Linked DNA regions of Homo sapiens: region 2 is linked to region 1. Evidence: fine-mapped expression QTL. Tissue or cell type: non-classical monocytes. Region 1 holds a variant in brackets; the other region holds the start of a gene. All regions are shown on one strand. Distances are from middle to middle.

Region 1 (16,010 bases):
CCCTGTCTCTACTAAAAATACAAAAATTAGCTGGGTGTGGTGGCACATGCCTGTAGTCCCAGCTACTCGGGAGGCTGAGGCAGGAGAATCACTTGAACCCTGGAGGCAGAGGTTGCAGTGAGCTGAGATCGCGCCACTGCACTCCAGCCTGGTGACAGAGCAAGATTCTGTCTCAGAAAAAAAAAAAAAAGAAAAGACAAATATATTTTGAGGTAAAATACTTCGATTTCTTTCAGGGCTGTTATCTGTCATATAATGCTATACTAGAGTCAGGTTGGAATTTGGTATCTTATTGCTACAGGAGTCTGTTCTCTCAGTCTTAAGATCTCTGTTTTAATGTTAATGCTGGTCAGTTGTGTCTGAATTCCAAAGGGAGAAGGGTATAATGAAGTATGTTGGGCCTCCATTTTCCATCAAGGCTTGAACTAGTTTCAGGTTTACTTTGGAATGCCCTTGGCCAAGAGGAGGTCTCCATTCAGTCAGTTGGAAGGCTTAGAATGTTATTTTTAGTTGATAGATTGTTTTGTGGGTTTTGAAATTTGTCATGATTTCTTGTCATGAATGGGTGTGTTGTAACTGAGCAGGTTCTTTGCTTTACCATGAGGTCCTAGTAAATCATGTTGAAGCGGTGTTGTTGTCTAGGGTAAATACCCAGGGTTTGTCATCTCGCACCAAGAAGATTAAGGACACAGACACACATGAGGAGTGAGTTTAGGAGCAGAGGTTTGATAGGCAAAAGAAAGAGAAAGAAGAACAGCTCTCTCCCTTGAAAGAGAGAGGAGTTCCTGAAAGGGAAAAACTGGTCAGCTCTAGACTGTACCAGATTTTACAGGCAGGCTTGAGGAGACAGTGTCTGATTTACGTAGGGCCCAGAGATTGGTTCAACCAGGTGCGATGTTTACCTAGTGCGTGGGGAAGGCTGGTGGTCCCACCCTAATCTTATTATGCAAATGGAGTCTTTGCCTGGCTGGTGCCATATTGTCTTTTCCTTACTGTGCACATGCTTTGGCAAAAAGAGAGAAGATGAACATGCCTAGTCCCAGGAAGCCTTTTCCTTTTGGCACAACTGCCAACTTCCACCCATGCAAGCTTCCAGCTTACTTGTCTATGCCTGCAGCTTGATTTTACAAGCTGCTCTTTGTTAGGAAAGAAAATGATTTTGGGGCCGGGCACAGTGGCTCACGCCTATAATCCTAGCACTTTGGGAGGCCTAGGTGGATGGATACCTGAGGTCAGGAGTTGGAGACCAGCCTGACCAACATGGAGAAACTGTCTCTACTAAAAATACAAAATTAGCCAAGTGTGGTGGCACATGCCTATAATCCCATCTACTCGGGAGGCTGAGGCAGGAGAATTGCTTGAATCTGGGAGGTGGAGGTTGCAGTGAGCCAAGATCACCCCATTGCACTCCATCCTGGGCAACAAGAGTGAGACTGTGTCTCAGTAAACAAAAAACAAAAGAAAATTATTTTGGGGCTGCTTTTCATTTAAAAGAAAACCTTACTGAGGACTCCCATACCCTTACTAATGATTTCTTCTTCTTCTTTTTTTTTTTTTTTTTGAGATGGAGTCCTGCACTGTCACCCAGGCTGCGTGCAGTGGCACAATCTCGGCTCACTGCAGCCTCTGCCTCCTGGGTTCAAGCAATTCTCCTGCCTCAGTCTCCTGAGTAGCTGAGATTACTGGTGCCCAACACCATGCCTGGCTAATTTTTTTTTTCTTTTTGTATTTTTAGTAGAGACGGGGTTTCACCATGTTGGTCAGGCTGGTCTCGAACTCCTGACCTCGTGATCCACCCACCTCGGCCTCCCAAAGTGCTGGGATTACAGGCGTGAGCCACCGTGCCCGGCCACTAATAATTTCTTCTTAACTCCTGTATCAATGTGACTCATGTCTGTCGACTTGGAAGGGCCAAGTCAAGCTGTGGTCTACCTCTAGGAAGTGTACAATACTCACAGCACATATATAATACTCCTGTGCTTCCTCTTATTTTTTCCCTCCTTTAATTTTTCTTTACGGCCATTTGCTTCTTTTTTTTTTTTCATTCTTTCTTGTTTTCACACTGGATAAGAAATAGCCCTTAAGCTTTGGATGGAAATTAAAGGAATTCTCAAAAATCCAGGCCTTTTGCAAACAGTAAAGATTATACGAAACACTAGCAAGGTGGGGCCTTGCCTTCAGTTTATGGTCCTGCCATGGTACAGGAGAAGCATGTCCCAGAACAGCCACAGAGTCCAGAAGAAGGCAACCTTTCTCCTTTTGACTTGTAGTTATGGTATACATCCATGTTTTTTAGTTTGTTAATGCTTCTGGGTGGACCAGGCTGAGATGGAGTGTTGCAAGCTATCTTTCTTAGTGTGGGAAAATCTGTGCACTTTCTAAGCCAGCCCATCTCCAGGGGGTGGGATCTTGGAGAAATCAGGCAGCTCCAGGGGCTGAGGGGATTTGGTTTAGCAGATGAGAATGGGACGAGACTGTCAAGTCAATCAAATGTGAGGACTAAGATGTTAGTAAAAAAAGCATACATTTGTTACCAGGAAGGAGTCCCAATCCAGACCCCCAAGAGAGGGTTCTTGGATCTTGTTCAAGAAAGAATTTGGGTGAGTTCACAGAGTAAAGTGAAAGCAAGTTTATTAATAAAGTAAAGGAATAAAAGGGTGCCTACTCCATAGGCAGAGCAGCCTCGAGGGCTGCTGGCTGGCTATTTTTATAGTTATTTCTTGATTATGTGATAAACAAGGGGTATATGTATCAGGGGAACCAGCCCCCAATATTTCAACGTAGGTTCTTTCTATTTTCCCTAAGGGTCAGGCGGCTGAGAAATAAAGAGAAAGAGTACAGAGAGGAATTTTACAGCTGGGCCTCCATGGGTGACATCACATATCGGTAGGACCATGATGCCCACCTGAGCTGCAAAGCCAGCAGGTTTTTATTAAGGACTTTAAAAGGGGAAGGGGTGTACAAACAGGGAGCAGGTCACAAAGATCACATGCTTCAGAGGGCAAAAAGGAGAATGAAGATCACGTGCTTCTGAAGCCAATAAAGATCACAAGGCAAAGGGCAAAGCAAAGATCACAAGGCAAAGGGCGAAATCAAAAACTCCTGATAAGGGTCTATGTTCAGCTGTGCATGTATTGTCTTAATAAGCATCTTAAACAACAGAAAACAGGGCTCAAGAGCAGAGAATCGGTCTGACCTCAAATTCACCAGGGTGGGATTTTTTTCCCCACCCTAATAAGCCTGAGGGTACTGCAAGAGACCAGGGTGTATTTCAGTCCTTATCTCAACTGCATAAGACAGACACTCCCAGAGCGGCCATTTATGGACCTCCCCCGAGGAATGCATTCCTTCCCCAGGGTATTAATTATTAATATTCCTTGCTGGGAAAAGAATTTAGTGATATCTTCCCTACTTGCATGTCCATTTATAGGCTCTCTGCAAGAAGAAAAATATGGCTCTATTCTGCCCGACCCCGCAGGCAGTCAGACCCTATGGTTGTCTTCCCTTGGTCCCTGAAAATCGCTGTTATTCCGTTCTTTTTCAAGGTGCACTGATTTCATATTGTTCAAACACATATGTTTTACAATCAATTTGTACAGATAACACAATAGTGGTCCTGAGGTAATGTACACTCTCAGCTTACGAAGTTAAGAGGATTGAGAGATTAAAGTAAAGACAGGCATAAGAAATTATAAAAGTATTAATTTTGGGAACTGATACATGTCCATATTAAAATGAAATCTTCACAATTTATGTTCCTCTGCCATGGCTCCAGCCGGTCCCTCCGTTCGGGGTTCCTGACTTCCCGCAACATATATTATTCATGAGTTTTCTAGGAAAGGGATGAGGAATTCCCAGACCGGAGGGTTTGTCTTCTTTTTAGACCATACAGGGTAATAACCTGAAGTTGCCATGACATTTGAAAATCGTTATGCTAGTGGTAGGAGTGTCTTTTAGCATACCAATGTATTATAATTAGCATATAATGAGCAGTGAGGATGACCAGAGGTTACTTTCATTGCCATCTTGATTTTGGTGGGTTTTGGCCAGCTTCTTTATTGCATCCTGTTTTATCAGCAGGGTCTTTGTGACTATACTTTATGATCTCCTATCTCATCCTGTGATAAAGAATGCCTAACCTCTGGGAGATGCAGGTCTCAGCCTCATTTTACCCAGCCCCTATTCAAGATGGAGCCACTCTGGTTCCAATGCCTCTGACACATTCATTCACTTAATTCTACAAATAAGTATTGCATGTTTACATTGTGAGGTCCTGAGTAGGGGAGGGAGGAAGACATTGATTACTTATTAAAAATTAAACACACAGCTTATTCCTTCCCCTTGTGATAAGTGCCAGGAGGGAGAAACAGGGGTTGCTGTGAGAGGAGAACTGAAAGACAGAAATATGGTCAGTGGGAACTGTGATCGGCAAAGATGTACAGACACAGGACCCTGGGCAGACAAATAATGAAACCGCCTTTGCGAAATTATGACTGAGACAGTGAAAGAGATCTAATCTAACTGACTCCATCTTGTTTGTAACCTTTAAGCTGTCCTTGTTCCTTCCTAGGTGTAGGCTGAAATAACTTTGGGAGGAATTTGGTTTAGAGTTTAAAATAAAGATAACAACACTTTCCCAAAACAAACCTCCTTCTTGCCTGGGGACTAGACTGCCTTTGTAGTACTAAGACATTAGCCACAAGATTAGAAATTATGGTTAAGGAGTCATTGCAGCTGGAGGCTACAAGACTCTGACCCTCCCTAAACTGCTCCTAAGATCCATGCTTGAGACATTTTGCAGACCCTGCACTTGATGGATCAGCTGGCATGACCCAGATTGATAAACTGGCCCATCTGATCTTGTGGCCCCCAGCTAGGAACTGACTCAGCACAAGAGGACAATTTCAACTTCCCATCTCTTACTTAACCAGTCAACATTCCTGGTTCACTGGCTTCCCCCCACCCACCAAGTTATCCTTAAAAACTCTGATTCCTGAAGCTCAGAGAGACTGATTTGAGTAATAAGAAAACTCTGGTCTCCTGCACAACCAGCTCTGCATGAATTAACTCTTTCTCTATTGCAATTCCCCTGTCTTGATAAATTGGCTCTGTCTAGGCAGCAGGCAAGGTGAACCCATTGGGTGGTTACAAAAATGGCTTGGGAAGAGTTTAAATTGTAAATATTAGAAGAATGAGAGGATTACTATGAAGGTGTGCATGCTGTTCATTTGCTGATTTTGTTCATTGGCTTCTGATTCCTTCTTACCCTCCCCAGCTGCCTCCTGTTACTCTCTTTATTAAATTGAGGGTGAGCTCTGGTTATAAAGGAGACAGTGGGTTCCATCTTTTGAAAGGATGGGATCCTAAACTGGAGTCTACCTATGCCTGTCCCAAAAAGAGTGTTGAGGACACTCTTGTTATCCTTCTGATAAGTAATGAGAGTTGCTAAGCACTACAGTATAAGATTTGTAATCTGCTGTTAATACTATTTGTTCTGAAAACAAAATTGTGAAAGAAAATAATAAAAATCTAATTGTGGACTTTGTCTCATTGCAAGTATCAGAGGCGTTCAAATCAGAGTAACTCCATCTTGGATAGGGATTGGGTAAAATGAGGCTGAGATCTACTGGGTCACATTCCTAGGAGGTTAGGCATTCTTAGTTAACAGGATATTTACAGTTAAGGGAACAAGTTAATAATGTTTATTGAACAGACCCAGGACTTAAGTGACCCAGGAAATAGACCAAGGAAATGTCTTGATGTCCCACTGTCTTAAGAACAAAAGCATTCTTAGTTTAAGCGTAAGTTTCGGGCCAGGCGTGGTGGCTCACGCCAGTAATCCCAGCACTTTGGGAGGCCAAGGAGGGTGGATCACGAGGTCAGGAGATAGCGACCATCCTGGCCAACATTGTGAAATCCCGTCTCTACTAAAAAAATACAAAAAAATTAGCTGGGCGTGGTGGCAGGCCCCTGTAGTCCCAGCTACTCAGGAGGCTGAGGCAGGAGGACGGTGTGAACCCAGGAGGCGGAGCTTGTAGTGAGTGGAGATCGAGCCACTGCACTCCAGCCTGGGTGACTGAGCGAGACTCTGTCTCAAAAAAAAAAAAAAAAAAAAAAAAATTTGTTGGGCATGTTGGCATGTGCCTGTCATCCCAGCTACTCGGAAGGCTGAGGCAGGAGAATCGCCTGAACCTGGGAGGTGGAGGTTGCAGCGAGCTGAGATTGTGCCATTGCACTCCAGCCTGGGTGACAAGAGTGAAATTCCATGTCAAAAAAAAAAAATTTCACTTTAAAGATAATACTATAGATTCTTGCAGAAGACAGTAGTTACACAAAGATTAACAATCCTTTATTGCAAGGCCTTGTAGAGAACATCTTCCTCATGTTTTTTGCTTTGTTATCTTACATGTAAACAAGCATTGTATCTTGTTAGATATGAGTTCTCAATTTCTTTTCAAAGAATTAATATGTAGTATGTTCAATTCTTTGACTTCTACTTTTAAACTTAACTTCCTTGTAAAGGAACCTTTTTCAATGACCTACTCCACCCTGACTCATTCCGATCACCTGCTCAACCCCAACTCATTCCAATTACCTGCTACCTGCTCTGCCCTGACTGGCGCCAAAGTACTCACCCCGTCATTCTCTTTAAATTAGCCAATGGGAATTAGTTTAGCCTGTGCAGTCTAACCCTAGCCAATAGGAGAACAACACAGCAGCAGGGGCCACGTGCATCAGGGAAAAGAACCCCTTACCCTCCCTTGTCCAAGTGTGCGCTCACCATTGCTCCGTCTTTAAGGGTGCACCCTTCTACAGAAGTAACTTGCCTTGCTGAGAATTAAAAAGAAAATGTTATATTCGAGTGCTATTCCTTTTGTGGCACTGAAACTTTATAACAACCTTGCATATAAACAAGCATCGTATCTTACATAGAAACAAGCATCGCACCTAAGGTGTGCGCATTTCTCTTCTTGCTTTCGAGAATGCCCTGCTCTATCTGCTGTCTAGAGAGTAGCCATTCTTTTATTCCTTTACTTTCTTAATAAGCTTGCTTTTACCTTATTCTGTGGACTTGCCCTGAATTCTTTCTTGCACAAGATCCAAGAACCCTCTCTTGGGGTCTGGAATGGGACCGCTTTCCAGTTACAGTAGAATTGTTATAGGAAGGTTGATTTCTGCTAAAGTGAGACATGGGAAGATTACATACTGCTACAATTTCCCACTTTCTTCTCATGTGTTTACAAAATGGGCCACTGTGGAGGCTCTGTTGCTCTCAGGAGTTTGTGCAGCTGGATGCTATGGATTCTGTCTAACAGAAGAAATGGGTCCTAGAAATGATGAAGCAGCATTATTTTTATTGAGTCTTCTTCAGGCAGAGCTAAGGACACCTTGGAAAATAAAGCAAGGATTTAGTGCATCACAGAAGCTATTTAATTTTCTCTCTGGCATATCCTTTGCTAATTGGAGATGTTTTCCCAGTTAATAAAAGTATTAAAAAAAATTGAATTCTTGGCAGCCAGGCATGGTGGCTCACGCCTGTAATCCCAGCATTTGGGAGGCTGAGGTGGGTGGATCACTTGAGGCCAGGAGTTTGAGACCAGTCTGGCCAATATGGTGAAACCCCGTCTCTACTAAAAATACAAAAATTAGCCAGGCGTGATGGTGCACGCCTGTAATCCCAGCTACTCGGGACGCTGAGGCAGGAAAATCTCTTGAACCCAGGAGGTGGAGGTTGCAGTGAGCTGAGATTGTGCTGTTGTACTACAGCCTGGGTGACAGAGTAAGACTCTGTCT[CA/C]AAAAAAAAAAAAAAATCATTGAATTCTTGTTTTAATCCTTGAAGACACTTAATATTTTGGCCAGAACACTATTTATATTCCGTTTATTTTAACAATGAATTTCCTGTCCCAAATGTAGTCAAAATGTGTACTTGCACAACAAAAGCATTGCAAACACTGCTGTGTTACAGACTGGCCAATGCACCACAATGTATTGGTCTCTTTGTGTGAGTTATCACCTGGAGTACTTTGTCTCAGGACCAAGAGAATTAAAGGGTGAGGTTGGAGCGAAAGTTTAATAAGCGAAAGGAGAAAGCTCACTGCAGGGGAGAGGGGATCCAGAAGAGGGTTGCTGGTTTTTGCAGTTGAATGCAAAGGCTTTTGTAAGAAACCGATGAGGGCTGGGCATCTCATTTGCATAAGGTGCAAATTTCTGGTAGCTCCACCCTGACCTCCTAGTGCACATGTGGGCGCTTAGCTTAAGTTACTCCATATTGCTTTGTTCTCCTTACTATGCATGTGTTAGGGGATGGAATTTTCCATTGCAGGCATGTCTGGGCAAGCCCCCCTGTGCAAGTTCCCTTATCTGTGCCTGCAGGCTGTTCTTCAGTTCGAAAGAATTCATCTGAGGACCCACCCTAACTGTCTGCCTGACTAGTTTCTTCCTTTCTCCTCTCTCAGCTGGAACTCAGTGATTCTCCTTTTGACTTCTACTTTGACCATGCAGGGGTCCAAGTTCAGGATTTCCTGTGGCCTCTGAAGCCAATAAAGAATTCATGAACATGGAATTCACAAACAGTTTTCAGATTCTTGAAGGCTGCAATATATGAATATTAGGATGTAAAACTGAAAACCTAATAAATTGGACTTTTAAAACATGCTTCCAGTTGTCTTTTACTTAATTAAGAAATTGATTTTAATACTAAAATTATAGTCACTTTTTCTTTAAAAATTAGAACATTACAAATGAAGCTACAGTTTCCATTGACAACCACCTCTAATCTTGATCATCTTCTCCCATTGTTCAGAGGTTATTATGATGTAAGTTTGGTGAGTGTCCTTCAGACCATTAAAAATACTTTTTTCATTTCATTTCAATGTGCCTATACACATTGTGCCTATACACAAAAGTTTGGTATGTACTTTTAAGACATAAATGGTGTCATACTGTTAGTTTTGTTCTCTAATTTACTTTATTTAAAAAACAGTATGTTTTTGAGATCTATTTATCTCCAAATAGATCCAAATGGATTTAGTCTGATTCTTTTTTTTTTTTTTTTTTTTTGAGACGGAGTCTCACTCTATTGCCCAGGCTGGAGTGCAGTGGTGCAATCTCGGCTCACTGCAAACTCCGCCTCCCAGGTTCACGCCATTCTCCTGCTTCAGCCTCCCTAGTGGCTGGGACTATAGGTGCCCGCCACTGCACCCAGCTAATTTTTTGTATTTTTAGTAGAGACAGGGTTTCACTGTGTTAGCCAGGATAGTCTCAATCTCCTGACCTTGTGATCCGCCTGCCTCGGCCTCCCAAAGTGCTGGGATTACAGGCGTGAGCCACCACACCCAGCCTAGTCTGATTCTTTTAACTGCTTTGGAGATTTCCATTTATGAATGTACTATATGTCAGGCCTCTGAGCCCAAGCTAAGCCATCATATCCCCTGTGACCTGCACGTATACATCCAGATGGCCTGAAGCAACTGCAGAACCACAAAAGAAGTGAAAATAGCCAGGTCCTGCCTTAACTGATGACATTCCACCATTGTGATTTGTTCCTGCCCCACCCTAACTGATCAATTGACCTTATGACAATACACCCTCCCCACCCTTGGGATAATGTACTTTGTGATATTTCCCCACCCTTAAGAAGGTACTTTGTAATATTCTCCCCACCCTTGAGAATGTACTTTGTAAGATCCACCCCCTGACCACAAAAATTGCTCCTACCTCTACCACCTATCCCAAACCTTTAAGAACTAATGATAATCCCACCACCCTTTGCTGACTCTCTTTTTGGACTCAGCCCGCCTGCACCCAGGTGATTAAAAAGCTTTATTGCTCACACAAAGCCTGTTGGGTGGTCTCTTCATACAGATGTGCATGACACTATAGTTAACTAATTCATGTATTGATGGACACTTACAAAACATGAACATGCATATAAAATTAGAAGTAGGACTGTGGGTCACAGGGTATATGCCAAAGTGTCCCCTACAGTGGCTGGGACATTTTATATGTCCCTTCATTAAGAATACTTTAAATTTGTTTTTATTTATTATACAGGAAAGAAAAGTGTCTCCTGCAGTAGCTGGGACATTTTACATATCCCTCCATTAAGCATACTTTAAATTTGTTTTTATTTGTTATACAGCAAAGAAAAGCAATCATTGCTTCCAGATCTGGTACCAGTCCTTCCTTCCTTCCTTCCTTCCTTTCTTCCTTCCTTCCTTCCTTCCTTTCTTCCTTCCTTCCTTCCCTCCCTCCCTCTCTCCCTCCTTCCCTCCTTCCTTCTCTCTCTCTCTCCTCTCTCTCTTTCTTTCTTTCATCTGTCTTCTACTTGTTTTCTTTTTCTTTTTTTTTGAGATGGCGTCTCTCTCTGATGTCCAGGCTGGAGTGCAGTGGCATGATCTTGGCTCACTGCACCTCCACCTCCTAGGTTCAAGTCATTCTCCTGCCTCAGCCTTCCTAGTAGCTGGAACTACAGGCATGCGCTACCACGCCCAGCTAATTTTTGTATTTTTTGTAGAGATGGGGTTTCACCATGTTGGCCAGGATGGTCTCAATCTCTTGACCTAGTGATCCGCTTGCCTTGGCCTCCCATAGTACTGGGATTACAGGCATGAGCCACCCCGCCTGGCCTTTTTTTTTTTTTTTGAGATGGAGACTCGCTCTGTCGCCAGACTGGAGTGCAGTGGTGCGATCTTGTCTCACTGCAAACTCCGCCTCCTGGGTCCAAGCGATTCTCCTGCCTCAGCCTCCTGAGTAGCTGGGATTATGGCGTGAGTCACGGCCCCTGGCCTTCTACTTGTTTTCTGTCCAGCAATATAATTCCCATTTTAGGCCTTAATTGCCTGATTTTTAGGTGAGGGAATAACAGGACTGTTTTGTGAAGAGTGAAAGTTTTTCTAAGTGCAGCCCCTGCCCACTCAATGAAAAGAAGACTCAGGGGAGCAAGAGTGTTAAGAATATTTTAGAATGCTGCCTTCACTTCAACAAGGATGTTGAATTAGAAGAATTTTTTTTGAGACAGGGTCTCACTCTGTCACCCACGCTGGATTGCAGTGGCACCATCATTGTCACTACAACCTCTGCCTCCCAGGCTCAAGCAATTCTTGTGCCTCAGCCTCCTGAGTAGCTGGGACTAGAGGTGTGCACCACCATGCTTAGCTATTTTTTTTTTTTTTTTTTTTTTTTGCATTTTCAATAGGGTTTTGCCATGTTGGTCAGGCTGGCTACGAACTCCTGGCCTCAAGTGATCCACCTGCCTCAGCCTCCCAAAGTGCTGGGATTACAGGTGTGAGCCATCGAGCTTAGCCATATTAGAAGGATTTTTAACTGAATAAGAGTAACACCCAAGAGAAAAGAGATGGAAAATAATGTAAAAACAATATGATCAGTTTTTTCACCGTACTTGATTTTATGCAGAAATGTCTTCTTCCAAAACTTTTCCCACAAATGCTAAGGTATAGATGCTCAGATATATTTTCTGGATCTCACAGCTGCCACACTCTCCTCTGCAGGCTCTAGTGGGCCCCAGAAACCACGAGCAGATAGAAGAAGGAAGAAAACCAGGAGGGCCAGGAAAGTCCTCCCAAGTGGGGAGAATTGGCAAATAGTCAAAAATTGACAGGATGAATGATAACATTGGAGAAATGCAACTTTCAAGACTTAATGTATACACTGTAAATTAGGGAAGAAACTTTATGTAGTGAGAAAAACATGGACAGTAGGGGAGAGCTTCTTAGAAGGAGTTGCTTACTGGGCACCACTGGAAGCTTGGTGGGGGCGTGGGGAGAAAGAGAGGGAGAGAGAAATAGAAAGAGAGAGAGGGAGAGGTAGAGAAGAGACAGGCACAAGGAGGCATTCCATAATGGAAGAGCCTGCGGTAATACAATTGTGCACTGCAGCATGGGATAATGCTGGGACAAAGAGTAGATTGGTTATGGGATAGAATGATAAGAATGGAATGGATTTAGGAGCTTTTGTGTGTTAGGGGCAGGCAGTGATTTTCTTCTTATTTTTTCGTCCGTGGGATAATAAGACAACTAAATACCATAGTAGCAAGACTGGCCCAAGACATTGTCCCCAGGTCAGATAATTTGGCACATTGTATACTAAATTATGAATAAGCTTATCTTTGCTTTATGCCATTGAGCTTTGAAACCACCCTTTATTCTGAAAAGACTGTGAGCCACCCCGTGAGACAATTTCAATCATTATCATAATAATATCAGTAGCAGAATCAAATCATATGTAGTTGGCTCTCTAAAACTAATCTAAAATTGCTTCATGGGTTAGCTGAGAGGTACCTAATAACTTAGATTGTCCTCAGGTGAGGACAAATGGATGAGTTTTTATTTAATCTTGCCATTTTAAATAGGGGAAAAATTTTTTTAAGGGAAGATTGTTTGATACAGGAAAAGTTGAAGAATTTTCAGAAAATTTTATGAACTCCAGGAGGGCTGAATTAAGAGAGAAAACCCCCAAAATGTCAGCTTTCATATCTGTTCAAGTCTATGTTACCTATGGTTGTTTCTTTGTCATCACCTTCTTCATAAAGACACAGCATAGCAGGGTTGGTGATTTTTGTCTGTCCTTGTCTCTTTTTTTAAATTTAAGAGGGAATGTTCTAATTGTGAAGGTAATACAGTTATTGTAAAGGATTTGTAAATATAGAAGCATAGGTGGGGTGTGGTGGCTCATGCCTGTAATCCCAGCACTTTGGGAGGCTGAGGCGAGTGGATCAGTTGAGTTCAAGACCAGCCTGGACAACATGGTGAAACCCCATCTCTACTAAAAATACAAAAATTAGCCAAATGTGGTGGCGCATGCCTGTAGTCCCAGCTACTTGGGAGGCTGAGGCAGGAGAATCGCTTGAATACAGGAGGTAGAGGTTGCAGTGAGCCAAGATCGTGCCACTGCACTCCAGCCTGGACAACAGAGTAAGACTCTGTCTCAAAATATATATATATGTATATATAAGCATATAATAAAGAAAAAAAAAGTCTACCTTACAACCAAAAGATAACCATAGTTAACACTTATTCCCAGTGTTTTTCTTTTCTTTAAATTATATTTAGTTGTACAAATAATGAGTAAATACATCCTTATTGAAAAAGTCAAACCACTGCGCCTCTCACCACAACTCCAATTGTCGTGTCACCCTCAGGGGTAAGTACTGTTATCAGGTGATGGGGATTCTGTAAAATTCTTTTTTTTCTTGTCTCTAAATATATTTATAGACAAAAACACAATACTTTTCCTCCTGCATGTGTTTTATGAAAAACAGTAACAAACAATGAATTTATATTATCTTATTTTTGTTCAGTGATGTCTTAAGGATATTACCATGCCAAAGCATACAGATCTATCTCATATTACCTGTTGCATAGGATTCAATAGTATAGAAATATTTTTATTTGATAATTGCTTTGTCAACAGGAATTTATGGTTTCAACATCCTCATCCTTCTTGCTGCTATTACTAATAATTGTATTCCTGGGCATAGTGACTCACACCTGTAATCGCAGCACTTTGGGAGGCTGTGGTGGGAGGATCACGAGGTCAAGAGATCGAGACCAGCCGGGCCAACATGGTGAAACCCCGTCTCCACTAAAAATACAAAAATTAGCTGGGCATTGTGGTGCATGCCTGTAGTCTCAGCTACTCGGGAGGCTGAGGCAGGAGAATCGCTTGAACCCGGGAGGCGGAGGTTGCAGTGAGCTGACATAGAGCCACTGCACTCCACCCTGCTGACAGAGCTAGGCTCTGTCTCAAAAACAAAAACAAAAACAAAATAATGGTATAACGAATATCTTTATACATATCTCTATGCACATGTATGAGTATTTTCATAAAGGAGATAATTGGAGAGTGGAGCGGCAGTGTCTTAGTCCAGTTTCTGTTGCTATAACAGAATACCACAGACTGAGTAATTTATGAGGAAAATAAGTTTATTCCGTTCATAGTTCTAGAGACTGGGAAGTCCAAAAGCATGGTGTGGTGTCTGGTGAGGGTCATCCCACGGTGGAAGGGTAGAAGGGCCAGAAAGCATGAGTGAGAGAGAACTTTATTTTATAACAAAGTCACTCTGGTGATACCTAACCTACTCCCAGAATAACAGCATCAACCCATTTATGAGGATTAATGTATCAGGACCTAATGACATTTTTCTCCAAAAATATAATTTTTAATTACTGAATATAATTTCATTGTGTGACTGTATCAGTATTGTTTTTTCTTTATATTAACATTCTTTTATTTTTGAACTCTAGTTGTTTTAAATATTTGCTATGGCAGATTTTTTGAAAATGTTGCTAAAGAGTACCTTTCTGAATATTTTTGTGTTTAATTTTTGGGTTTATTTCCATTTCTTTTGATAAGATCATGAGAAAGAAATTCACCAGGACAAATAGTGTTAACTTTAAAAATTTTTTAATGATACATATTGCCAAATACTTTTCTGGAAATTTTGTACCAGTTTATCTTTATTTGAGCAGTGTATTAGCATGTCTTTCTTATAGAACTATCTTTTCATATGATTAATAATGATAATAATAATAATTATTATTATTATTTTGAGACAGAGTCTCGCTCTGTCAGCCAGGCTGGAGTGCAGTGGCGTGATCTTGGCTCACTGCAACCTCTGCCTCCTGAGTTCAAGTGATTCTCCTGCCTCAGCCTCCTGAGTAGCTGGGATTACAGGCATATGCCACCATGCCCAGCTAATTTTTGTATGTTTAGTAGAGACTGGGTTTCACCATGTTGGTCAGGCTGGTCTTGAACTCCTGACCTCATGATCGGCCTAGCCTCCCAAAGTGCTAGGATTACAGGTGTGAGCCACTGCACCTGGCCAATATGCTTAATTATTAAATATATTTAAAATGTTGCTAGTTTTAAAGATCAGAAATAATAATTAAATTTATATTTAATTGATGATGAGTGAGGTGGGACATTTCTCATTTTATTAGCCATTTATGGCCCTTCTGATAATTGTTAGTTCTTCTATAGATGTTTTCTCTTAGGTCATTGGTTTTCTTACTGGTGTGAATAGGCTCTTTGCATATTAAAGTTTTGATTCTTTGTATTATTTCTGGAAATATTTTTCCAGTTTGCTCTTTCACTTTAAATTCTGCTTACACATTTAAAAAATTTGTTGTCATCTGTGCACTTTTTCTTGAATGTTCTTGCATTGCTTTTGTGCTTAGAAAGTCGGCTATGGCTTTCATGTTTGTGTTGTTCCTCCAATTCATATGCTGAAATCCTTACCTCCAAGAAGATGGTATTAGGAGATGGGACCTTTGGGAGAAGATGATTAGGTTATGAGGGTGGAGGCTTCATGAATGAGATTGAAAAAAGAAAGCTTAGAGCTGTACTTACACATTATAAACCAAATAAATTTAAGATAGACTTAAAGCACTGAATATAAAAAATAAAATCAGGCCAGGCATGGTGGCTCACACCTGTAATTCCAGCACTTTGTGAGGCCAAGGCAAGCAAATCACTTGATGCAAGGAGTTCAAGACCAGCCTGGTCAACATGGTGAAACCCTGTCTCTACCAAAAATACAAAAAATTAGCCAGGTGTGGTGGCACATGCTTGTAGTCCTAGCTACTCGAGGGACTGAGGCAGGAGGATCAACTGAACCCAGGATGTCAAGGCTTAAGTCTACCATAATGTTTAGGGGGAAAACCCAAATACATTCCTATGAAAGTTAGGAACAAGACAAAATGTCCGTTATTGCTATTAATGTTTAACAATGTGTTATTAGTTTTTATGCTGCTAATAAAAACATACCCGAGACTGGGTAGTTTATAAAGGAAAGAGGTTTATTTGACTCACAGTTCAGCATGGCTGGGGAGGCCCCAGGAAACTTACAATCATGGCAGAAGGGGAAGAAAATACATCCTTCTTCACATGGCAGCACAAGGAGAAGTGCAGAGCAAAAGGATGAAAAGTTCCTTATAAAACCATCAGATCTCATGGGAACTCACTACTATGAGAACAGGGGTAACTGCCCC
Region 2 (16,010 bases), 31 kb before region 1:
TCCCACGTAGCTGGGAATACAGGTGCCTGCCACCACACCTGGCTAATTTTTTTGTATTTTTAGTAGAGATGGGGTTTCACCATTTTGGCCAGACTGGTTTTGAACTCCTGACCTCAGGTGATCTGCCCGCCTTGGCCTCCCAAAGTGCTGGGATTACAGGCATAAGCCACCGTGCCCAGCCTCTAATTTTTAAGTACTACATCTATTGAAGACTTTTGCTCTTAGCTGTCTTCCTCTGTCAACATCCTTGGTGACATCAGCATCCAGCTATGCGACCCATCCAAAATCTTGGCCATTCAGTTCGTTGATGACATGCCTCAGAATCAATGATTTTTTTTTGCAATATTTCAACTGAGCCACCTATTCCCATGGTTACAGCCTAGGCCAGGAACTGCACTATCTCTGGTTTTAAGCATCCTACTCTGCCCACCACCGACTCTCCTTTCAATTCCCTTAACTGGAATAGCCCCATTGCAACAATGCTCTGACCTCATCAGGACCTCTCAGTCATTGATCCTGTTCTATTTTTTCAAACTCCTATATTCCTTTATTTTCTTCCTCTCTTCATTTTCTTGACTATCCAGCTTAAATTCTATGATCCATCATTATAATGACTCCCTTGTAAATACAATCAATTACCTTGTTCCTCTCTCTATCTTACTTTCCTGGCATAACCCTGACCTTGGCTGAAGGTAACTATGTTCCATTTTCTCAAACAATGGAAACATATAGGAGAAAAATCATACAATTGAGCTGACTGGTTTCATTTTAAAATCATTACCATAAACCTCAAGGGCTCACTCAGCACTGCTGGGTAATTCCATTGTTTCCCTGTATGGTGTTCTCCAAGTGTTAGTCATTCCTCTATCATCTGTATGACTTTTGCTGTATCTGAATACTACCTATGCAATCATTTACTAAATAATTTAGCTTAAGTTGATTCCAATTGAAAAATGTACCCATATCCTAAACTTTGACCTAGACCAGGGGTTGGCAAACTATGGCCCATAGTTACCTGTTTTTATATGGCCCATAAGCTAAGAGTCAGTTTTAAATTTTTGGTTGGTTTTTAAAAAAAAGAATAATAATATCTTGTGACACATGAAGATAAGTGACATAAAATTCAAATTTTGGGGTCTATAGGTAGTTTTATAGGAACATAGCCACATTTGTTTATGTTTTGTCTCTGGTTACTTTCACACTCAAACAGCAGGATTGAGGGGCTGCAAAAGAGACTACATGTGGTGCTCTTATCATTTTGCCCTGCTCATCCACAAATCACAAATAATAGGGGTACAGTTATAACTCTACCGTGTTTGGTAAAGTACCGTATGTATTGTACTATGGTGACATTTACTTTACTTTTAAAATTACCAGAGCTTACTCATCATGTTAATACAAGAAACGTGGATTTTGGATGTCATGCTTTTAAGACAGTGGATAGTAGATTATATTTGTAGAATTAAATGCCAAAGCATTATGTTTACTATAAACATGACACTATAGATGTGCTAAAAGAATACTTAGACATTGACATAACTAGACTAAGCACTTGTTATAATATCCTTAACTCACAGAAAAGTAACAGTTAGAAAAATTAGAAAATTTAAAATGGAATATCTGACCACAGCAGAACTGTCTCACAAAAATAAAAGATAAAATGAGGCCGCAACCAAAGTCAGTTTCTGAGTGGTTAATTTATTAGCCAGGCAAAGAGAGCCATTTACCAATGTTGAGTTCATTAAATCATGTTTAATTGCTGCAGCCAAAGAAACGTGCTCTTAGAGAAGATAAACTTGCCTTTCAGTGAGACTGGTTGTTCAGGGTTGAGGATGTTGGGAGCAACATGAACATATTTTTGCCTTAAAAACAAGGCAAATGATTTTCTTTGGCTCTTGACAAGTTCACAAATGTTAACAATACTGAGCAGTTGTTATTTGAAATATCAGTGCTAAGACTGAAGTAATCAAAAAAAGCCTGTGTGGAGAGAATACAGGTGAGAATATTTTAATAGAAACAGAAAACACGAACTCAGTACAATCTGAAGTAGAATCTGATAAGATGTGTTAAAACTGATGACGGTAAAAATATGTGTTCACCAGAAAAGGGTTTAATTGGGTACATTTACAAAGCTTTTGAAAATGAAAAGCCTGTGGTTTTTCATGATATTATTCATCAGCAAACACATCACAGAAAATATTTGTATTTATCAGGCATTATTAAGTCAGTAGTGTAAATGTTGAACTTCATCGCTCTTGTGGACTTAACCATTGTCACTTCTACAAGTTTTTGCTGGAAATAGAAACCATATATCCTGACTTGCTCTGATGCACAGAAATTTGATGGATCAGTGGTGACAATGTTTCATTTCAATTTTTTGAACTCAGGGCTGAGATGGAAAGTTTTTCCAAATAAGAAACACAGCCTTCAGTCAGTATTATTGAATACTGAATGGCTTTGGAAATTAGCTTTTGCTGTAGAGTTGGTAATATTTATTAATCAACTCAAGGTATAATTACAAGGTAAGACAGTACTATATGCAATAACTGCTAATGTTGTTCTAAGTACAGGCTGTCAAGCTGTCCTATATCCTTTCTATGCTGATGAAATTTAAAACAAGATGTGAAATCTTCATTCTCACACAAATATTCAGCCCTCAATGCACATGCAAAGGAAATTCCCATATTTCAAAAATATATTAATATTCAACTGTAGTTGAGGAGCTTCCATCTAACCTTCAACTGGAGGCTTTTAATCTGCAGCGTAATGACATGCTAAAAGATAAATATCAACATAAAAATCTAAGGTAATTTTATAGATGCCTTCTGAGTGATTAATATGCTCAATTTAAATCACATGCTTATGAAATGAAAGCAATAGTTAGCAGTACCCATCTGTGTGAATGACATTTTTAAAGATGAAACATGTAAATTTTCATTCCAGATAAGCATTAAGAAGTGGAAATTTGGCCAGGTGTGGTGGCTCATGCCTGTAATCCCAGCACTTTGGGAGGCCGAGGCAGGTGGATCACCTGAGGTTGGAAGTTCGAGACCAGCCTGACCAACGTGGAGAAACCCCGTCTCTACTAAAAATACAAAATTAGCCAGGCATGGTGGCGCATGCCTGTAATCCCAGCTACTCGGGAGGCTGAGTCAGGAGAATCACTTGAACCCAGGAGGTGGAGGTTGCGGTGAGCTGAGATTGTGCCACTGCACTCCAGCCTGGGCAACAACAACAACAAAAAGTGGAAATTAGGAATAAATTTTGATGATAGGAAACACTAACTTTGAGCCTTAGTGAAGAAAAATGTTATTCATCCCCCAAACTAATTATGTTCTTATTAGTAGTAGACTTCAGCTCTTCTAGGGAAACCCCCAAAGGGAAAAAAACTTTAGGAATAATTGGCTGCCAGGTGATTCAGAGGACAGAGGATTCAAAGAAGGCTCGTGGAGCTCTTGCTTCACCCCAGACTTTCCATAATCCTCCCGATTGGTTGACACTTTTCCTATAAAAAAAACATGTGATGTGGTCCTTCTGGCAGTCCTTTGCTAGAAAGTGCTTTCTCCTCCTAGAACAGAAAAATGTTAACATTGATTGCCCAGTTTATCCCTCTAAATTTTTCCAAGAATATTAAAGTATTTTAAACTTGCAATTTCACAACTGAAAGATCACTTCAGTAAGACCATGAATGGTGGTATTATATTATATACAACAAATCTTTTTGACTAGTTAAGAAAATACCAATTAAAACAGAATTCAAATGTATTGAATTTACAGTCAAATAAACATCATATAGGACCAGAAAAATATGTTTATTGTAGGTGTTTTTTAGAACCTTATATTTACCCAACTAAAATGTCTTGAAATGTACTTTACATTTTTGATAAGATGTTTTTTAAAAGAACAATTGTGATTTACCTTAATAGTGAAACTGAAGGTCTTTCAGTTTATTTTTCATAAAGTGAGCTCTCAGTGGTTCTCTAAGCTTAGCGTATAATAAAGTTATAAGATGGATCACATTTATTTTAGGTGTAAAAATATATTGGAAACAGTCATATGTATGGGGAAAGATAGAAAATGGACCTTAAAATAAATGAAATGAAATGTATGAAAATCTTTGGAAATGACACTGACAAATTGTTTGACAACCAACTTTATGTCACAATAGAACAAATAAGGGACGGGGATCTGTTTTAGGATGAATTAAAGTCATTGCTGAAGAGTGTTCATTTATTAGATAAATCAGGATCAGCAAACAAGTGAAACAAGTCTAGGAAAGGACTGAGAATGGCTTTAAAGACCTTTAAGAGCTGCCACTCGCTTGGAATAGCAGGTTTCAGTGGTCTGTACTTCACCAAGTAATCTTCTGGTAGATGACTGAAGGAGCTGCTTGCAGGTTTTGAGAACATTTCGTTCAGCTAGGACTTAGTCCATTCAGGCTGCTATAACAAAAATACCTTAGACTGGGGAATTTATAAACAATAGACATTTATTTCTCACAGTTCTGGAGGCCAGAAAGCCCAAGATCAAGGAGCCAACAGATTGGTGCCTGGTGAGCTCCTCCTGTTCCTTATGGATGGATGGCACCTTCTTGCGGTGTCCTCTTTTTTTTTTTTGAGACGGAGTCTAGCTTTGTCACTTAGCTAGAGTGCAGTGGCGCAATCTTGGCTCACTACAGCCTCTGCCTCCCGGGTTCAAGTGATTCTCGTGTATCATCCTTCCTGAGTAGCTGGGATTATAGGCAGCCGCCACCACGCCTGGCTAATTTTTTGTAGAGATGGGGTTTCAGGCTGGTCTTGAACTCCCGACCTCAGGTGATCTGGCCACCTTGGCCTCCCAAAGTGCTGAAATTACAAGCCTGAGCCACCATGCCCGGCCTGTCTTGCTATATCCTCACATGGAGGAAGAAGCAAGGGAGCTCACTCAAGCCACATTTTTTAAGTTTCAGAAATGTTGCTTTATATATAGATATAGATAGATATGTCTTTTTAAGAAAGAATTTTGCTTTTGAAAATTTTTTCTTCATTTAAAAATTTTAATTTTTTTTTTTTTTTTTTTGAGATGGCGTCTCACTCTGTCGCCCAGGCTGCAGTGCAGTGGTGCAATCTCGGCTCACTACAAGCTCTACCTCCCAGGATCACACCATTCTCCTGCCTCAGCCTCCCAAGCAGCTGGGACTACAGGCGCCTGCCACCACACCCGGCTAATTTTTTGTATTTTTAGTAGAGACGGGGTTTCACCGTGTTAGCCAGGATGGTCTTGATCTCCTGACCTCATGATCCGCCTGCCTTGTCCTCCCAAAGTGCTGGGATTACAGGCGTGAGCCACTGCGCCGGCTAAAAATTTTAATGTGTTTTTTAAATTGACATATGATTGTATATATTTATGGGATTCATAGTGAAGTTTTGATACAAATAATATATAGTGACCAGGATAATTAGCAGATCCATCATCTCAAACATTTATTATTTCTTTGTATTAGGAACATTCAATATCCTCCTTCTAGCTATGTGAAACTATATAATGTACTATAGTGAACAGTAGTCATCAAACAGTGGTATGGAACACTAGAACTGATTCCCCTTGTCTAGCTGTCACTTTGTATCCTTTAACAAATCCGAGCCACTTTTAGAAGGGCTAATGTCAATCATGAGGGTGGTGCCCCCATGACTTCATCATTTCCCAAAGGCCCCACTTCTTAGCACTATCACAATGGGTATTAGGTTCCAACAAATGAATTTGGGGTGGCGAGCACCAACATTTAGATCACAGCAAGTGTTTAGGAAAATACTAAAATTAAGCCTACTCTTTTAAACAACCTTTAGACAATTAAAATGTCATAGGAGTGATTTCAGTGACAAGTTTTCAATCGGAAGTCAAAAGCTCCAAAAGTTATCATATTACAAATGTTCCCGTGAGAAACATGTACATCTGTAAAACAAACAAGCAAACAAGCAAAAGGAGGAAACCAGAGTTCTAAACTTACGACACCACAAGAAAACTCCAAAACAGAGGTCTGTACGGAGGTATTGTGGGCCACACGGTGCTGCCCACACACGGGGTTTTGTGAGAGGTCTGGACTGGAACTTGTTTGTACATTTTTTCTTCCCTCCTTTGCTTAAACTGTTATCAGACCTAGAGACCGCCCCCCTCCAACTCCCAGCCTGAAATGTTCTACCACCATGGTCCCAGCTAGCCCAAATCGTCATCTCCTCCAAGGTCCAGACCTCGGGGTCCCCCCAGCTCAACTTCTTTGACGTCATCACATCATCAGATGCTGCTTGAAGAGTCACTTGGCTCATGTCTTGATATCCCAGAAATCTCAAAGGCATCTGGGGAGGGCTGAGCCAAGTACTTTTTCTGCCTCCAGTTACCACAAAATCACATTGTTTTATACAGAGAAAAATCTGTTTCATGCTGATTTTTAAAGACTGCAAATTTATATCTTCTATTCTCATGAATAAGAGCTACAAGGTTGACCAAACTGAGCAGAATTAGGCTTTATGACATGGGATTCTTAAACAATTGGATTAGAGTTAATGGAGAAGGATTTCCATCTGGTTCTCTTCCAGGTGTCTTGAGTTTTCATCAATTTTGTGTTTCCTCTGGCAGTGTTGGTTCATTGAAAATTTAACAAGTTTGGCCGGGCGCAGTGGCTCACGCCTGTAATCCCAGCACTTTGAGAGGTGGAGGCAGGTAGATCACCTGAGGTCAGGACTTCGAGACCAGCTTGGCCAACATGGTGAAACCCTGTCTCTACTAAAAATACAAAATTAGCAGGGTGTGGTGGCACATGCCTGTAATCCCAGCTAGTCGGGAGGCTGAGGCAGGAGAATCGCTTGAATCCAGGGGGCGGAGTTTGCAGTGAGCAGAGATCGCTCCATTGAACTCCAGCCTAGGTAACGAGCGAAACTCTGTTTGAAAAAAAAAAAGAAAAGAAAATTTGACAAGTTTGTAGTGGTTCTACTGCAAGGAAAAACTACAACTTAAAAATGTGTTTACTCCAAATTGTACTATTAATAGGAGATTTCTGAAAGCCTAAGTTTTCATTAAGAACTTTTTCTTTAACGGTGCATCAAGTGAAAGCCTTGAGATGATTCTGGATTAGATATATGGCAAAGTTACCGTGAGCTCAAAAGCCATTGTCCAGATGAAGAAATCCTCAGGGTCAATATGAATGCACATAGGATGACTGATGGAATCCAAGAAAAGCTGCCATAGCTCTGATTTTGCCTTTTTGTGTTGTCTTTAGAGACATGCTCTTGCTCTGTCGCCCAGGCTGGAGTGCAGTGGTGATCATAGCTCACTGCAGCCTTGACCTCCTGGGCTCAAAGCTATCCTCCTGCTTTAGCTTTCTTTTTTTTTTTTTTTTTTAAGATGGCGTCTTGCTCTGTCACCCAGGCTGGAGTACAGTGGTGCTATCTCAGCTTATTGCAACCTCCGCCTCCCAGGTTCAAGCGATTCTCCTGCCTCAGCCTCCCAAGTAGCTGGGATTACAGGCATGTGCCACCACACCTAGCTAATTTTTGTATTTTTAGTAGAGACAGGGTTTCACTATGTTGGCCAGGCTGGTCTCGAACTCCTGACCTCAGGTGATCCACCTGCCTCAGCCTCCCAAAGTACTGGGATTATAGGTATGAGCCACCTCACCTGGCCCCGCCTTAGCCTTCTGAGTAGCTAGGACTACAGGTGTGCACCACCATGCCTGGCTAATTTAAAAAAAAAAAAAAAAAACTTGTAGAGATAGAGTCTTGCTGTATTGCCCAGGCTGGTCTCAAACTCCTGGCCTCAAGCAATCCTCCCACCTGTTTGATTTCATGTGTCTCAAACAGCATAGGAGTCTACTAAAGGCTTTTTTCTTTTTTTTTTTTTTTTTTTTTGAGGCAGATTCTTGCTCTGTCACCCAGGCTGGAGTGCAGTGGCTCAATCTTGGCTCACTGCAACCTCTGCCTCCCAGGTTCAAATGATTTTCCCTGCCTCAGCCTCTCAAATAGCTGTATTACAGGTGTCCGCTACCACGCCCGGCTAATTTTTGTATTTTTAGTAGAGACAGGGTTTCACCTTCTTGGCCAGGCTGGTCTCAAACTCCTGACCTCAAGTGATCCACCCATCTCAGCCTCCCAAAAGTGTTGGGATTACAGGAGTGAGCCACCGCGCCTGGCCCACCAAAAGCTTTAAAGTGAGGTGAATGCAGATTCCATTTTCAGATTCTGCTACAAATTGTGGGACCTTAAACAAGTTACTCATCTTCTCTGTGCTTTAGTGTTATGATCTGGAGCCTGATCTTCATTCTACCACTTACCCTGTACATCTTGGAAATTTTATTTTATTTCCCTGTGACTGTTGCCTTGTCTTGCAGATGGATTATTCTAACATCCACTTCATAATCTTGTTTCATTTAAGGAGATTGATCATACGTGGGAAGCACTTAGAACAGTGCATGGACGAGCACGAGTATTTCATAATGAGCAGCTGTGGCTGTTACTAACACTGGTATTACTAGTACCCGTACTTCCAGGCAGGGTTGTTGAGAAGGTGAAATGAAAGAACGCACACCAGGGCAGGCTACATAATTTGTGGACCCCGGTACAGAATGAAAATGCAGGACACCTTGTTCAAAACTTCCTAAAAACGTCAAGACTGGGACAGCTGAGTATTAAACCAAGCGCAGGACCCGGACCTGCACAGGTTGCACGCTCGCAGACACATTTGCACACAGTGTGTGCTAAATAAATGCTCCGTTCACCCTTGTGAAGTTTCCTATGCCTCACTCGCGCCAGCACCGTTCACAGTGCCCACTGGCTGTATTTATCGCTGACATAAGGATGAGGCCTGGAATTGCATTCACTGCAGAGTCCCACCGGGAGGACCGACCGTTATCCCCGCCGACTCCCCCCAGGTCGCCCTGGCAGTTTCGGCCGCTCAGTTGCAGGCCCTCGCCACGGAGGCCACGCTCGGGGGTTCGGGGTCCACCCCGGCCTCCTGCGGCCGGGCCACCCTACTCGCGCGCAGCCGCGCGCCGCCGCGTCCCCGCGGTGTTTACCCGTTGCCCGAGGAGACACCCGCGCCACCCGCCGGCTCCCGGCGCCGCCGCTTCCTCAGGGCCGGTTCCGGGTCCGAGCGCGCCCCCGGGCTCGGGTCGTCATGAGCCTGGACTGCACCAGCCATATCGCGCTGGGTGCCGCTTCGCCAGCGCCCGAGGTACGGTCCCAGCCGCCGGCCGCGCGCGGGGGTGGCCCTGGGGATAGACGACCCAGGAGGGGCCGAGGCGCCCCTGATTTGCACCCTTTTCCTCCCGGAGGCGTGGGCAGAATCAGAGCAGCTCTGTGCCCGCGAGGGCTGTGGCCTGGGACTGCCAGGGCGCTGATTTCAGGAGGGGATGGGCAGGACCGGAGTTTGCGGAGCGCGTCTGAATTTTAGGTTGTGCCACTCTGCTTCTCTGACCATTTAAACCGGTGACATTCGAAAGACTGTGGCCGGGCAGTTCCTCCCCGCCACCCCTGGGAGCAAAGAATTCCTTCATTTAACTTTCCCTGCTTAGCTACTGAAGTGTGCTTCGGAGCAATTTCTGGAAAATCTGATGTGGCAGGAGGAGGGCCAGCCCGGAGTAGAGTCACCGGCCCTTTCGTTGCGAAGTAATCCAGAAACGTTGGTAATTCAGTTGTTCCTGAATGCATCTACTCATTTACTCCCAGGAGTTACTTAGGTACTGGGGACTTTCAGGTATTAGATGTACCAATGCGCGCGCGCACACACACACGAACATGCGCGCATACACAGACGCTCGTGCACACACGCGAACAGGCACATACGCGAACAAACACGGGCGCGCACACACACGAACACGGGCATATGCATACTTGGGCGCACAAGAAGATCTGGCTGGCTCAGTCTGGGTTAAGAATCCCCCTTTGGCCTTGGCATCGGGGCCCACCGGGTATCGTGTGTATTGGGAGTAGTTGCCAGAGATGGGGGAATTGTGTTCAGCTCAACTGCTAACCGCAAGTAACTCACCCAATTAGTAAATGATGGAGGATTTTTCTTTCTTTCCAAAGTTTTGGACTTTTCCTACCACGCTGTGTACTGACCATAGATATCCCTGGGGGATGTAGTGGATTCAAAACATGAGTTGGATTCTCCAACGTGCCATCGGAATTCTTCTAATATTCAGCAGCTTTGATTGTTGTTTTACATCTGACCTGTATTTAGATTTCTCTGATTCCTGGAATATTTGTGGAAAATAAGTACCACTGTGTGCAAATAAAACTATTTTTTCTTTCTTTCTAACTCAGAGGCCAGTTACTAGATGTTTTTTCTTTCATCTGACATTTTCATATTTGACTTTATTAATTTTTATCCCAATGTGGTGTCTTAACCATACATAAGTATGTGGTATTTTTATATTATTAATATATATTTTTTTTGGTGAGCCCATTGAGAGTAAATTACAGCCATCATGATTCTTTCTTTCTCTCTCCTTTTTTTCTCTTGTTCTCTCCCTCCCTCCTTTTCTTTCTTTCTTCTTTTTTTCAGACAGGGTCTCACCTTGTTACCCAGGCTCGAGTGCAGTGGCACGATCTCGGCTCGCCGCCGCCTTGACACCCCTGGGTTCAAACGATCCTCTCACCTCAGCCTCCAGAGTAGCTGGGACTCCAGGCATGCCATGATGCCTGGATAATTTTTGTGTTCTTTGCAGAGGCAGAGTTTTATCGTGTTGCTCAGGCTGGTCTCAAACTCCTGAGCTCAAGCGATCCACCTGCCTCAGACTCCCAAAGTGCTGGGATTACAGAGATGCACTACCATGCCTGGTCCCCTATGACCTTTCATCTGTAAATACTCTGGTGTGTTATCTCCTATGAATAAGGGCATTCTCTAACGAACATACAATGATCAAAATCGGGATGTTTAGCATTGTGACAATAATATTATCTAATATACACGACCTACTAAAACTTTGCCACTTGTCCCAATTATGCCATTTATTGCCAATTTTTTTTCCATCTCAGGATCACACACTGTATTTAGTTATGTCTCCAGTCTCTTCAAACCTGGAACAGTTCTTCACATTTTTTTTGTTTGTTTTTTTGTTTGTTTGTTTTTGTCTTTGATGATACTGACATTTTTGCAGAGTCCAGGTCATTCGTTTTATAGAGTAAGTTTCTCTGATTGTCCTTCGTGATTAGATTTTTGGGTAGGAATAACATAAGAGATGTTATGTCTCAGAGTATCACATCAGGAGGGGCATATATCAGCTTATCCCATTATTGGTGATGTCCCCAGCTGGTGGCCTCTGCCAGATTTTTCCCCTTTAGCAATAAATAAGAAATCATATTAGTTGAGTAATAATATTGATTCGGATAGAAATTTTTAGCATAAGTCACTGCCTACAAAAGGAAAATGTCCATTAAGCATGAGATTTTAATTGGCTTAAAATAACTAAATTTTATTGAGAACAAAAGTAGCTGCAGAAAAGGCAGCATTTATTACAATTAAATGTTCAGTTTGCAAAATACTTTATCTGAGATCATCTTATAATTTAGATAGGCGGGGCAGAAATTTCTCACTATATAAGATGAGGAAATAGCTTACTGGATTAGAAATGATGGAGCAGGGACTTGTATCTTTCTTTCAAAAGCTTTGTACTTTTCCTACCATGCCAGACTGAAAACATTAAATTACAAAGCAGTGATAGTCTGCAACTTTCTGGAAAAGTAAAATACTGTAGAGACTGAGATACTAGTTTTAGACTCAAAACTAGATTCAAACAATCCTGATTATACCACTCATCTGTGACATCTTGGTCAAAACAATTAATGTATCAGCATTTTAGTTTTTTCTTCTAAAACATGGAATCATAAAACTTATCGCATAACGTAGTTTGAGGATTTCACGGTTAATAAATGTAAGGCACTCAAGAGAGTGTCTGACAGAATAAGTGCATATCAATATTAGCTATCGTTATTCTTTGTAACTTTTGGAATTTGCTTTGGTGTCAACACCACTGCACCTACTCCTACCATCATCACCAATGCTTCCATCAGTACTTCAGCCACCATCTCAATAGTCAGTGTTTTGAGAATCTGTAGGAGGGACAGAGGATACAAAAATGAATTGGAGATTGACCCTGCTCATAATGAAGAATTGACAGTTTACAATCCACTTTGGGAGGCAGAGGTGTGTGGATCGCTTGAGCCCAAGAGTTTAAGACCAGACTGGGCAACATGGCAAAACCCCGTCTCTACAAAAAACACAAAAAGTACCCAGGCATGGCCTGTAGTCCTAGCTACTTGGGAGGCTGAGGTGGGAGGATCACTTGAGCCCAGGAAGTTGAGGCTGTTGTGAGCCTTGATCGCACTACTGCACCCCAGCCTGGGCAACAGAACAAGACCCTGGCTCAAAAATAAAATAAAAATTAAAAAAGAGTTTACAATCAAGAAAAACAGACACATAAAAAGATTACTCCTTCATCAACACTAAAATTTAATGCTGCACTCTTCTCAAGTTGGATTTACCTATAATGCGATCACCAGCACAGCCTTACTGGGATGGAAAATGTGACAAATACTAACAGCAATATTATGAGAATTGAAGTGGAGCAGCCCAAACATGAAGGAAAGAGATATGCTTTGGGGGAAGTTTACAAACATAGCTTTCAGTAAGACTGCATAACTTTGTCATGCATTTGAAATAACGCTACCCAGTGAAAATGTGCTGGGTGCGGTGGCTCATGCTTGTAATCCCAGCACTTTGGGAGGCTGAGGCGGGAGGCTCACTTGAGGTCAGGAGTTCGAGACCATCCTGGCTAACATGGTAAAACCCCGTCTGTACTAAAAATACAAAAAGTAGCCAGGCTTGGTGGCAGGTGCCTGTAATCCCAGTTACTGGGGAGGCTGAGGCAGGAGAATTGCCTGAACCTGGGAGGCAGAGGTTGCAGTGAGCCAAGATTGTGCCACTGAACACACCATCTCAAAAAAAAAAAAAAAAAAAAAAAGAAAAGTGACCTAATTATAAAATAGGATCACCAGTCAGCAAAAAGCTGTAGCAATAGTTCTGTGGAAAGTGCTTGGATTCCAAATCCTCTGACACCAGTGAGAAGCCACAGACATATGGTGGCTTGTAGGCTCTCTTGCTGTGGCAGTGTTTTCACATACCTGGAAAACCTAGATCAAAGTTACAGCTCCAGTAGATACCATTGTTGGGAATTTGAGCATCTCTTTCCTTTCTGTAAAACAAGGGTTAATTAGAATAACTATCAACAGAATTGTTATGAGAAGCAAATGTAAATAGCAACACACTCTATCAGCAGCTATAGTTCCTCAAAACAAAGGACTTAGAGCTGGTCATAGCTAACTATAAAGGAGTTAAAGTCTGTTTTCCTTTTTCTTCCCATCATTTCTACTTTTAAAAACCTCATATAAAATACATATAACATAAAATTTGCCATCTTAACTTACAAATGTACAGTTTAGTGGCATTAAGTACATTCACATTGTTGTGCAACTGTTGCCACAAGCCATCTTCAAACCTTTGTTCATCTTGCAAAACTGAAACTCTGTACTCATTAAGCAATAACTTCACATTTCCTCCTCCCCACAGCTCCTAACAACCACCATTCTACTTTCTTTCTTTATGAATTTGACTATTCTAGGCATGCTGTATAAGTGGAATCAGACTGTATTTAACTATTCTAGGCATGCTGTATAAGTGGAATCAGACTGTATTTGACTATTCTAGGCACGGTGTATAAGTGGAATCAGACTGTATTTCAGTATTCTAGGCACGCTGTATAAGTACAATCAGACTGTATTAAACTATTCTAGGCATGCTGTATAAGTGGAATCAGACTGTATTTGACTATTCTAGGCACGCTGTATAAGTGGAATCATACTGTATTTGACTATTCTAAGCACTCTGTATAAGTGGAATCAGACTGTATTTGACTCTTCTAGGCACACTGTATAAGTGGAATCAGACTGTATTTGACTCTTCTAGGCACACTGTATAAGTGGAATCAGACTGTATTTGACTATTCTAGGCACGCTGTATAAGTGGAATCAGACTGTATTTGACTATTCTAGGCACTCTGTATAAGTGGAATCAGACTGTATTTGACTATTCTAGGCATGCTGTATAAGTGGAATCATACTGTATTTGACTATTCTAGGCACGCTGTATAAGTGGAATCAGACTGTATTTGACTATTTTAGGCACGCTGCATAAGTGGAATCAGACTGTATTTGACTCTTCTAGGCATGCTGTATAAGTGGAATCAGACTGTATTTGACTCTTCTAGGCACACTGTATAAGTGGAATCAGACTGTATTTGACTCTTCTAGGCACACTGTATAAGTGGAATCAGACTGTATTTGACTCTTCTAGGCACGCTGTATAAGTGGAATCAGACTGTATTTGACTCTTCTAGGCACGCTGTATAAGTGGAATCAGACTGTATTTGACTATTCTAGGCACGCTGTATAAGTGGAATCAGACTGTATTTGACTATTCTAGGCACTCTGTATAAGTGGAATCAGACTGTATTTGACTATTCTAGGCATGCTGTATAAGTGGAATCATACTGTATTTGACTATTCTAGGCACGCTGTATAAGTGGAATCAGACCGTATTTGACTATTTTAGGCACGCTGCATAAGTGGAATCATGCTGTATTTGACTATTCTACGCACTCTCTCTGTATAAGTGGAATCAGACTGTATTTGTCCTTCAATGACTGGCTTATTTCACTTAGCATAATGTCCTCAACGTTTCTTCATGATGTAACATGTATCAGAATTTCCTTCCTTTTTAAGCTTGAAATATATTCCATTGTATGCATATGTCATGTTCTGTTTATCCATTCATCTGTCTCTGCACACTTGTGTTGTTTCTATCTTTTGGCTGTTGTAAATAATGCTGCTATGAAAATGAGTGAACCAATATCTCTGTGAGACCCTGCTTTCAATTTTGAGGGATATATACCCGAAGTGAAATTGCTGGATCCTATGGTAATCCTATTATTACTTTTTTGAAGAACTGCCACTGTTTCCGTAGTGGCTGCACACATTTTACATTCTCACCAGCAGTGCACAAAGGTTTTCATTTCTCCACATCCTCACCCCCACTTGTTATTTTCTGTGTGTTTTCTTCCTTTATTGTAGCCTTTCTAATGGGTATGAGGTAGTATCTATTTCCACTTTTTAAAGAACCATTTCCTCCCTCTTCTGGTTTGCTCTGTTTTTTTTTTTTTTGTTCTACTCCTTTTTCTCAAAATCAAGTTTAAGAAGAGATCTGACTCTAGTTGCATGTCTTCATATGAACTTAAGTCAGAAGCCTTCTCTAGATATAAAGAAAACCAATCTCCACCCCACCACCCCCAAAAAGAGAATATAGAGAAAAAGAAACAGAAGGAATAGGGAAAAAAGAAAACATAAATTATAGTTGAAAGAAATACAAACATATCAGTAATTATGATAAATATATATGGAGAAAATGCTTAGTTAACTAAGAAAAGCCATATTGCATTAAAAAAATCTAAATATATACTATTTATGAAAGACACATTTAAACAAAAAGATATGGGAAGGTTGAAAGTAAAAGTGTATAAAAATGTGTATCAGGCACATAACAACCAAAATAAAATTGATTGGCTATATTAATATTATGCAAAATACTTTAACACAAGAAAAGCATTAGTAGTGGTAAAGAGAGTCACTAAATAATGATAAAAATTTCATTCATCAGGTAGTTGTAATAATTCTAAATGTATATGTTCCTAAGAACACAGCATCAAAATAGAAAAACAAAAATTGGCAGAAGCAAAAATCTATAAGGACAAATAGACAAATCCACAACTAAAGAGAATATTTTAAACATATCTCTTAGTATTTTGTAGATCAACCAGACAAAAATTTGGTAAGAGAGCTGCTAAAAGTGCTAAAATGCAAATTTGGTGACGTCACTGTGAAGAATAGAAATATGTAAAATATTTGGGATGTGGCTGTAAAAATTAACAG

The links. PIP is the estimated chance that this variant, and not a neighbour inherited with it, causes the effect.
Region 2: it holds the start of CCDC170, and the variant in region 1 is fine-mapped to the expression of CCDC170 in non-classical monocytes (Schmiedel 2018, PIP 0.95).

The regions. Positions count from the first base shown.
Region 1 is chr6:151,515,891-151,531,900 of GRCh38, forward strand. The region is part of intron 1 of CCDC170 (coiled-coil domain containing 170); the gene reads left to right. Among named protein-coding and RNA genes, the nearest start is that of CCDC170, 30 kb to the left of the region's middle. The variant CA/C (reference allele first, on the strand shown) is at 7,795.
Region 2 is chr6:151,484,985-151,500,994 of GRCh38, forward strand. CCDC170 (coiled-coil domain containing 170) reads left to right here and starts at 9,033. Exons shown (of 11, transcript NM_025059.4): 1 at 9,033-9,201. The coding sequence starts at 9,145. LOC124901436 (a long non-coding RNA gene) reads right to left here and starts at 13,222. Exons shown (of 2, transcript XR_007059817.1): 1 at 13,152-13,222; 2 at 11,423-12,080.